2 separate regions of the Homo sapiens genome follow, and region 1 is linked to region 2. Evidence: fine-mapped expression QTL. A gene starts in region 2. The other region holds a variant in brackets. All regions are shown on one strand. Distances are between the middles of the regions. Region 1 overlaps AGO4 (argonaute RISC component 4). Region 2 holds the start of AGO4 (argonaute RISC component 4).

Region 1 (5,373 bases), 53 kb after region 2:
ATGTGTCCAAAAAAGGAATAAATTGGCATTCTTGTGCCAAAAGTTGTTTTTCCTGTCAATTGTCTAATAAGTATGCAGTACACTGTAATGGCAACATACATGGTTGCTTTATAAAAACAGTTTCCTCAGTATGAGAAATTTTACAAAGAACAGTGGAAAAACTTTGTGTTTTTAACTCTTGGGTCTCCCTATTTTTAAAAATTGCTATTTGGTATACAATTATTATGTGTCAATTAAAACTAAAATAAAACTTTTAAAAAAGAAATTTCTATTTGAGAATTTTAGAAGAGCTTTTCAGCAACACTTCACTTATGAAAACTTTTACAAAATTGATCAGAGTTCTGGATATGGCTCTTAATGGGAAGATCTATTTAAGCAATGCTTGAGAAGAATCTGCAGTCTCCAGAGGGCAGTGTGGCCACACACTTTATAAGACTTAACTTCTCCAGAGGAGAAGCTGCTCAAATTCATCCAACCTGGGGCTATCCAGTCTCATCTTTAGAAAAATTCTCACCAGCAAGTCCTTTTGCTAAGTCATGGCAGGGACAATTCCTTAGGGAATTTATAGTTTGCCAGAGGAGAAAGTTCTGCATATAACTCTACTAGAAGGCGGTTGTTTTTTCCATCTGTATACTATCTCCACCATATTTATCAGTTATCAAACATTTATCATGAACTGGGTACATGCCATGTACTGCCTAGGTGCTGGGAACACAGAAGAGTAAAAAATTATTCAAAGAATTCATTCTAATTTGGCATGAGATGGAGGAAGAGGCAGCGAGATTAACACTGAGTGCCTACTATATGTCAGTCACTATATTTATTTATTTATTTATTTATTTATTTATTTATTTATTTATTTTTGAGACGGAGTCTTGCTCTGTCGCCCAGGTGCAGTGGCGCAATCTCGGCTCACTGCAAGCTCCTCCTCCTGGGTTCACGCCATTCTCCTGCTTCAGCCTCCCTGGTAGCTGGGACTACAGGGGCCCACCACCACGCCCGGCTAATTTTTTGTATTTTTAGTAGATTTGGGGTTTCACCGTGTTAGCCAGGGTGGTCTCAATTTCCTGACCTCATGATCCGCCCATCTTGGCGTCCCAAAGTGCTGGGATTATAGGCGTGAGCCACCATGCCCGGCCTATTTTTTTTATTTTATTATTATTTTTTAAACACAGGGTCTCACTCTGTCACCCAGGCTGGAGTGCAGTAGCACAATCATAGCTCCCTGCAGCCTTGACCTCCCAGGCTCAAGCAATCCTGCCACCTCAGCCTGCTGAGTAGCAGGGACTACAGGAGGTGCGCATCACCATGCCCTGCTAATTTTTGTATTTTTTTGTAGAGATGGTGTTTTGCCATGTTGCCCAGGCTGGTCTCAAACTCCTGAGCTCAAGCGATCCTCCCGCCTTGACCTCTCAAAATGCTGAGATTATAGCTGTGAGCCACCGCACCAGGTCTGTCAGTCACTTTCTATTGATATCTTTATCCCAGGAACAGAGTGTTGCTGGGCATTGTATCAATACTGCTTCAACTCCAAGAATTTTTCCTTGTAAAATTAAAGGAAAGATCTTGTTATTGATTAGTCATTTTATAGTCAGAAACCATGGGGTAGTTGGAAAATAGAAAAAAACAGTGTTGCTGGGATAAAGATATCAATAAAAAGTGACTGATAGGCTGGGTCAAATGCTTTCCCTTACTCCTTCTTTGGGAGATAGGATCCCTCTTTATTATAGAAAATTTGTTGTTGTTATTATTATTATTATTGAGATGGAATCTCACTCTGTCACCCAGGCTAGAGTGCAATGGCGAAATTTTGGCTCACTGCAACCTCCGCCTCCCCAGGTTCAAGCGATTCTCCTGTCTCAGCCTCCCAAGTGGCTGGGATTACAGGTGTGTGCCACCACACCCAGCTAATTTTTGTATTTTTAGTAGAGACGGGGTTTCACCATGTTGGCCAGGCTGGTCTCCAACTCCTGACCTCAGGTGATCCACCCACCTCAGTCTCCCTATGTGCTGGGATTACAGGCATGAGCCACCGCACCCAGCCAGAACCCTCATTATTTCGTATGATTCACGTGTGTCCAAATGGCCTTATTCCCACCTCACCCCCCACCACTTGTGTCATACTCATGTCCATCCCTGAATTTCTCGGGGATGTGTTACATCAGTCAGGAATGGCTTGTGGGCCCACTCCACCGTCCTAGGGGGACGGTGGCCAGTAAGTAGGGGAATGACAGACTGATCAGCACCATCACAAGGCGTGTGTCCGTTTTGTTTCTCTCTTTCTTTTTCTCTGTCTCTTGCCTCTGATTTCTTCTGTGTTGACTATTCTCCAGAAGCTAGTGGCAAGTCTTTTTTTTTTTTTTTTTTTTTTTTTTTTTGACAGGGTCTTGCTCTGTTGTCTAGGCTGAAGGTGCAGTGGTGCTATCATAGCTTACCGAACCTCAAACTCCTGGGCTCAAGCGATCCTCCTGCTTCAGTCTCCTGAGTAGCTGGGACTACAGGAGTGTGCCACCATTCCCAGCTAATTAAAAAAATAATAATTTGTAGAAATGTTGCTCAGGCTGACATTTTTTACGAGACAGGCGCTTTAACCAACTAAGCCATAGAGCCACCAGGCTGACATTTTTTAAAGAGATGAGATCATGCTATGTTGTCCAGGCTGGCCTCAAACTCCTGGCCTCAAATGATCCCCCGTCCTCAGTTTCCCAAGTAGCTGGGATTATAGGGTGCGAGCCACCATGCCCAGACAGTGGCAAATCTTTAAGGAGAAGGACAAAATCAGGGGTAGGTGGGCTGGAAGAAAACTAGCAACTATATTACAAATTGAAGAAGGAAGAAAATAAATTTAGTTTAACAAACATTTCTGGAGTTTCTATGGCATGCTAGGAAACAAAAATGAAAGACAGAAGTTAAAAAAAAAAAGATCATGATATGTTTGAATTACAAGTAATCTTAGTAATTTTTGATTA[T/C]AGGGGATGAGGGAGGAATTGGACCCAAGGTAGGCACCAAGTTCTGAAAGGACAGGACAGAAGTTAAATGGCATTTTACGGAGTTTAGAGTTTATCACATAGGTACAGGGGAATAACAGACTCTAATCTGTGTTAATTTTGCCAGCAGTATTGTGAGTAGGTTGAAGCTGAAGTTCTGCTGAAGAGAAGTTCAAGTTTTATTGCAATAGCCAAGCAATAGATGATGAAGCTTGAATTTGAGCAATGATACTGCCGTTGAAAGAAGGAACGAACACGAGGTAGTCAGAAAATAGAAAAAGCAGAACTTGGTGACAAAATGGATACACAGAGTGAGGGAAGGAGGCAGACTCATTAGGAGGGCTCCCAGGTTTCTGGCTTGGGCAGCTGGGTAAAAAATAGTGCCACTGAGAGAATGAACAGAGGAGAAGCAGATTTTTAGGAAGGAGGAAGGTGGTAAGTTCAGTTTTGTACAAGCTGGAGATGAGAGCTGATGCCTATGGAATGGAGAAAGAAATTGGAAGCCATAAATATATAGGTGGTAATTAAAACCATTCAAATGTGTGCCCAGAAAGATCATGCAGGCCAAGAAGAGATGAAAAACAGACAGTCCTAAGGGGACACAAATATTTAAAGGGTAGACAGAGGAGAGAGATGTCTAAAGGAAATAAAACATGGATGGCCCTGCGCAGTGGCTCATGCCTGTAATCCCAGCACTTTGGGAGTCCGAGACGGGCAGATCACGAGGTCAGGAGTTCAAGACCAGCCTGACCAACATGGTGAAAACCCATCTCTACTAAAAATACAAAAATTAGCTGGGCTTGGTGGCAGGTGCCTGTAATCCCAGCTACTAAGGAGGCTGAGGCGGGAGAATCACTTGAACCCGGGAGGTGGAGGTTGCAGTGAGCCAAGATTGTGCTGCTGCACTCCAGCCTGGGCAACAGAGGGAGACTCTGTCTCACAAAACTAACAAACAAACAAACAAACCCCATGGACAAATGGATAAAAAAGAACAAGTTGTCTTAGAAATCAAGGGAAAAGAGCATTTCATCAAGTATGTACAGGATCGGCTATGTAGGAGTTAGCTGTGTGACACTGGGCAAGTTAACCTCTCTTAGCCTCAGTTTTCTTATTCGTAAAATGGAGATAGTACTAGTACTTACATCCAGGGTTGGAAGGATTAAATGCAATCATACATGTAAAGGCTTGGAAACACATACACATAAGCTACAAAGAAGGAAGTGGCTAACTATCCAATAGTGATCTAAAAAGACAAAATCTGAAAAGTTTCCATTGGAATTTGCAGCAAGGAAGTTATAGGTGACCCTGGTGAAAGCAATGTCTGTGGCTGGAGAAGGAAGAAGGTTGACTATAGAGATCTGAAGAACCTATAGTACTATAGTTGGTAGGTTGGATATAAAGGGAAAGAATGAATTCTGATATTAGCTGGGGTGGGAAATGGTTCGTTTTTCAGAATGGGAGAGATTGAGCACGTTTACACACTAGGGAAGGAGTCAGTAAAGCAGGAGGAATTGGAAATACTGGAAAGAGAAAAGACGCACAATAGAGGGCAAAGCTGAAGGAAGTTGGAGGGAATGAGATCTGATGTACAAGTGGAAAAAAACTAGAAGAGGAAAGTGCGAGAAGACTATTGCCTTTTCTAACTTTTTTGACGTATACATATAGTAAAATATACAGACCTTAAGTGTGGAGCCCAACTTGTCACAAAGCAAAGACATCCATGTAACTTCCACCCAGATTTAAAAACAGAAGCCCTCCAGGACCCCTTCTGAGTCACTACCTGAACCTATTCTGGTCAAAGATAACCACTATCTTTTTTAAAAACAGTTTTTTGAGGTGTCATTGATATAGAAAAGCTGCACATATTTAATGTTACAATTTAATGGGCTTGAACATATGCATCACCATAATCAAACATATCCACTGTCTTGACCTGGGTGTGATGGCACAAGTCTGTAGTCCCAGCTACTTGGGAGGCTGAAGTAGGAGGATCTCTTGAGGCCAGGAGGTCAACACTGCAGTGAACTGTGATGACACCTGTGAATAGCCACTGCACTCGAGCCTGGGCAACAGAGTGAGACCTTGTCTATTAAACAACAACAACAACAACAACCAAACAAAAAGGCCGGATGCAGTGGCTCACGCCTGTAATTCCAGCACTTTGGAAAGTCAAGGTGGGTGGATCCCTTGAGCTCAGGAATTTGAGACCAACCTGGGGAACGTGGCAAGACCCTGTCTCCACAAAAAAATTAAAAAATTAGCCAGGTATGGTGAGGCACACCTGTAGTCTCAGCTACTCTGGAGGCTGAGGTGGAAGGATCGATTGAGCTGGGAGGTCAAGGCTGTGCATGAAAAAAACAAGAACAAAAGCAAAACAACACTATCT
Region 2 (5,373 bases):
CTACCCTGTCCTGGAGGCATGTGCGATGTGGAAGAATGAGCAACCACCATCAGAGAGAGCTGCAGGGGAAGTGACATTCTGGGTCATGGCTTCTCAGCCACAGCAGGAAGTGGAGGGAGGGCTTGCTGAGCAGGCCAAGGTTTAGAGGAGTTTATTGACTACAGAAATTTGGTTTGGGAGGGTTCTGTAGGAATAGTTTTTGGAAAAGGAACAGTGGGTGTTTGAGTGAGAGTGAGTTTTGAAATGAGAAGGTAGATGATCAGAGTAATCAAGAATCACTCTGTTGAGTGAGACATTTCGGTCCCAACTGGAACTATGGGGTGAATAAATTTCATACTTCAGCCTCTAAAGCTAGTGGAAAAACTATTTTCAGTCCAGGGAACAAGCTGTGGTCTCTGCTCAGGGTAGCAAATAGAATATAGAGAAATTTTGTTAGGAAGTGGGGTTGGGAGAGTCAGCCACAAACCAGGCTATTGGAGACACCGGCATTGTTTAAACTGTAGGTGGAACTTAGCGTGAAGTGAAAAACTTGAACTTTAGTTGGTTTTTCTTTTTTTTTTCTTTTTTTTTTTGAGACGGAGTCTCGCTCTGTCGCCCAGGCTGGAGTGCAGTGGCCTGATCTCAGCTCACTGCAAGCTCCGCCTCCCAGGTTCACGCCATTCTCCCGCCTCAGTCTCCAGAGTAGCTGGGACTACAGGCGCCCGCCACCACACCCGGCTAATTTTTTGTATTTGTAGTAGAGACGGGGTTTCACTGTGTTAGACAGGATGGTCTCGATCTCCTGACCTCATGATCCGCCTGCCTCGGCCTCCCAAAGTGCTGGGATTACAGGCGTGAGCCACCGCGCCCGGCCAACTCTAGTTGGTTTTTCTTTTCTTAGCTGTGCAGCAGTCTGATCGTTTAGTAAATACTTTCTCCCCTTTGAACATTCTGTCCCCTATTACTATTTCCAGTTACTATCTGGTTTAACAGAGAGGTAGCATGATGCTGTGAAAAGAATATAGAGTATGGTGGCCGGGCATGGTGGCTCACGCCTGTAATCCCAGCAGTTTGGAAGGCCGAGGCGGGCGGATCACGAGGTCAGGAGATCGAGACCATCCTGGCTAATATGGTGAAACCCCGTCTCTACTACAAATACAAAAAATTAGCCGGGCGTGGTGGCGGGCACCTGTAGTCCCAGCTACTCGGAAGGCTGAGGCAGGAAAATGATGTGAACCCGGGAGGCGGAGCTTGCAGTGAGCCGAGATCGCGCTGCTGCACCCAAGCCTGGGCGACAGAGCGAGACTCCGGGTCAAAAAAAATAAAAGAATATAGGGTATGGTATCAGTAGACAAGAATGTAGGCACTAGATTAAAAGTCCCAGTTCCGGCCGGGCGCGGTGGCTCAAGCTCGTAATCCCAGCACTTTGGGAGGCTGAGGCGGGCGGATCACAAGGTCAGGAGATCGAGACCATTTTGGCTAACACGGTGAAACCCCGTCTCTACTAAAAATACAAAAAAAAATTTAGCCGGGCGTGGTAGCGGGCGCCTGTAGTCCCAGCTACTTGGGAGGCTGAGGCAGGAGAATGGCGTGAACCCGGGAGGCGGAGCTTGCAGTGAGCCGAGATGGCGCCACTGCACTCCAGCCTGGGCGACAGAGCGAGACTCCGTCTCAAAAAATAAAAAATAAAAAAATAAAAGTCCTAGTTCCATAGCCAATCAGGGAGAGAATTAGCCAGGACTTAAATGCAAGATTTGAACTCCAATTTTTCCCATGCTTCACTTCAGCATCATGTAATGCAAAGCCCGACTTACTTAACTTCCCTGAGCTTCGGTGTCATCATCTGTACAAATACCTTTCTTAACAATATCTACCTTACTGGTGGTTGTAAAGATTGAGTGACAATGAGAAGCCCATAGCAGAGTGCATGGCCAGGATGTGATGCTAATATTTTTTATCATTACATAAAAAAACTACCTGGCTCTGTGACAGCACATGGCAGGTGCTCAAATGAATATCCCACCACACATGCTAGGGGCCTAAATTATCCCCCACCCCAATAATTTGTATATTGAAGTCCTAACTCTAGCACCCCAGGATGTGACTGTAATTGGAAACAGGGTCTCTGAAGAGGTAATTAAATTAAAACGAGGTCACTAGAGTGAGCCCTACTCTAATAGGACTGCTGTCCTTATAAGAAGAGGAAATTTGGACACAGACGTGCACAGAGGGAAGACCACGTGAAGTCACTGGGAGAAGGCCACTATCTACCAAGTGAAGGAGATAGGCCTCAGAAGGAACCAACCCTGCCTACATCGTATCTCTGACTGCCAGCCTCCAGAATTGTGAGAAAATAAATTTCTGTTGTTTAAGCCACCCAGTCTGTGGTACTTTGTTACGTTATGCCGTAGCAAAGGAATACAACACACACACACAAACTCATCGTACCTTTTCAATTGGTGGACAAGGGGCTCCTTCCTTCTGCTGACTAGAAACTGCTTCTTGGCCTGTTGTCCAGTGTTCTCCCACTCAAAGTCCTTACTGAAAGCCCTAAAGATGCTGTGCCTGCTGGGCTGACCATGCTGCCTTGGAGGTGGTGCTGCTCCCTTGGCTTTTGTCTGCTAAGGGGAAGGCATCCAAGAAAGCAAGACCTTTCTCTCTCTCTCTCTCTTTTATTTTTATTTTTTTTTTTTCAGACAGTCTTGCTCTGTCGCCCAGGCTGGAGTGCAGTGGCCCGATTTCGGCTCACTGAAACCTCTGCCTCCCGGGTTCAAGCGATTCTCCTGCCTCAGCCTCCCAAGTAGCTGGGATTACAGGCGCCTGCCTCCACGCCCGGCTAATTTTTTGTGTTTTTAGTAGAGATGGGCTTCCGCCATGTTGGCCAGGATGGTCTCAAACTCCTGACCCCAGGTGATCCACCCGCCTCCGCCTCCCAAAGTGCTGGTATTACAGGCGTGAGCCACCACGCCCGGCCAAGACCTTTCTCTTCTAAAGTGACTGGTGATTTGCTGACCAGAGGCGCTTGTCATGGGACCAGGGAGGGAATGCATCATTCATCAGGGTCCATTCCCGTGGTGCCTTCCGGCTATACGGAGAGGGACGCGCAGTTGGGTGTGTGGTGCTGAATGAAGGGATGAAGGAGGACTGCTAGCGTCTAAGGTGACCCTAAAAGACGAGATGACAGAAGCGATCTGGGGTGGGAGGAGGGAGGAGGGAGGCGAGGTGGCTCCTGTGAATCTCAGTACACTTTCCACTCACAGAAGTGGAAAACTGAATCTGTGGGTCAGCGGAACTGGAATCCAGATCTTTTGCAGGACGCCCTGGGGGGATGGCACGTAGCCCCCAGAGCCGTTGGCCACCGGACGGCCTCCTCGGGTGGACGGGGCAGAGCGGGCCAGCGGGCGCGTGCCCGACACGTCCACCGGGCTCTGCACCCTCCGGGCGCGCGCTCGTTCCCCGACCCGCCTCGCCGCCTGCCGGGCTCTGTGGACCCCGCGCCCGGGGCCGCGCACGCCCCCTCCGCCCGCCGGGACCCTGGGTCCGCGCACCCCGCGCCCCCTTCCCTCCCGGCGGGCGCGCGCGCTGGCTCCCGCTCCCGCTCCCGTTGGCGGCGGCGGCGGCGGCGGCGGCGGGGATTGTTTTTGTTGTCGCTGAGGCCGGAAGAGCCGGAGCCGGGTCCCTGTCCCCGGGCCGGGCGCCGCCGCCGCCCCCTGCCCAGCGCCCGCGTCTCCGCGGCGCCACCCCAGCGCCAATATTCCGGAGATCAAGCGTTACGCGGCGGCGGCGGCGGCGGCGGCGGGGCCCGGAGCGGGAGGCGCCGGGGACCGGGGCGAGGCGGCCCCCGCCGCCGCCATGGAGGCGCTGGGACCCGGTGAGGAGCGAGCTCGGGTCGGGGCGGGACCCGGGACCCGGGACCCGGGGCGGGCGGCCGGGACTTTCGCTGCCCCGTCGCCTCGCCGGGTTCGGGCCGCCAGGCCTCGGGGAAGGGGACCCGAGCCCCGCAGCACGAAGCGGAGGGAGCTGACCCGGGCCTGGGGGGCGGTGACCGCGCCCCAGCCGGCCGTTGGGTGGATCCCGAGGTCCAGGGGGGAGGTTCGGGAAGGTGACCGGCGCTGCCGGGCGGAGGCCACTCTTGGCCCCACCTCGGGGAGACGATATGTGCCCGGGGTCGCGACGAGGGTAGTTTGGGCCTCAGAAGGGGGCGATCCGCTACCCAGTGCGCGCGGAGGCCTGGCCCAGACCGGGAAAAGGGCCCCGCTGCCTACTACCAGCCGGTAGTCCTGGTTTGGGGCCGCGCCCCTATTTTTCTTTGCACTGGCAGATGGTCCAGAGCCTTCAGATGAGGAAGAAGAACTTCATCCAAACACCTCTCATGATCTCTGAAGGTCAAGGGACAAAATGCCCACCCTTTCTGAAAGGCCCTGATGTCCCAAAGAACATGGTCCTGTGCCTCTGTCACTCAGTCTGTGTGTTAGTCTCAGAGTGGTCTGAGCCAGCCTTTGAGTGACACAGGAGTTGCCAGTCAGTCTGCTCCACCACAGGCTTCAATGCCCTGAGTTCTCTTCTAATTGGGTTATGAGTGGTTGTGAGGATCAAATGAAGGAGAAAGTGCTTTGGAAACTAATTTGTTGTGGATATGGATGGCCTCTGGTTATTTCTCTCTATCCAAACCAGAAGAACCATTCCAGGCTGTAACAAGTGTCCTGAGTATTGGGGCCTGGTGCTTCCACCTCAAAGCCCAACAGGTTTCTAATGCCTTGGCTAAGTAGCTCAGTGTTTAGGGGCTGTGGTGGAATTCACTTTAATATTCAAACTTTACCTACATAATGAACTTAGTCGTAGAGTGTTTCATCTTTTTAGTGCGTAGAAAATTCGAGTTGCCATTTGAGTTTGGAAACTTGGCACGTTTGTTTACTTAGCACTTGTTTGCATAGCTGAGTGATTAAGCCCCACCCTAATTTGCTTCTTAAAGTATTGTTTAAAGGCCCTCATAATCAAATTTCATATGCCTTTTAAAAATAAATTGGCTTGCCGCATTAATATTGTTTGATAAACTTCAGTGTATTATGCCAGGTTAACTTCAGATATGTCCCCTGGCTAAAGACATGCTCAGGTCTTTAGGAATGTAACAGATTCAATCTAGTAATGTAATAGTTGTATGACCCTGGGAAAATTACTCAATTCCTTTGAACTTTCATTTTCTCGTCTATAAATTGAGGGTAATAATAAGTATGTTCTGTAAGATTGTTGAGAGAATGAAATGAGAGTATATGATAAGTCTTATTGTAGAGACTAGTGCCTATAGATGCTCAACAGATGTTTCTTCCCTCCCCCTAGTAATTCATAATTGAAACAACTGTTGCATTTATGATCTGATATCGAAAGAAATTGTGT

What was found. PIP is the estimated chance that this variant, and not a neighbour inherited with it, causes the effect.
Region 1: its variant is the best candidate, but not a certain one, in a credible set for the expression of AGO4 in T cells (TOPMed, PIP 0.85).

Annotation. Positions count from the first base shown.
Region 1 is chr1:35,857,626-35,862,998 of GRCh38, forward strand. It overlaps AGO4 (argonaute RISC component 4), which reads left to right. Exons shown (of 18, transcript NM_017629.4): 18 at 1-265. Among named protein-coding and RNA genes, the nearest start is that of AGO1, 23 kb to the right of the region's middle. The variant T/C (reference allele first, on the strand shown) is at 2,970.
Region 2 is chr1:35,804,586-35,809,958 of GRCh38, forward strand. It overlaps AGO4 (argonaute RISC component 4), which reads left to right and starts at 3,431. Exons shown (of 18, transcript NM_017629.4): 1 at 3,431-3,850. The coding sequence starts at 3,832. It overlaps CLSPN-DT (CLSPN divergent transcript), which reads left to right. Exons shown (of 3, transcript NR_199050.1): 3 at 2,160-2,355. RefSeq lists enhancers at 138-187, 2,605-3,104, 4,204-4,483 and silencers at 3,314-3,523, 3,804-4,053.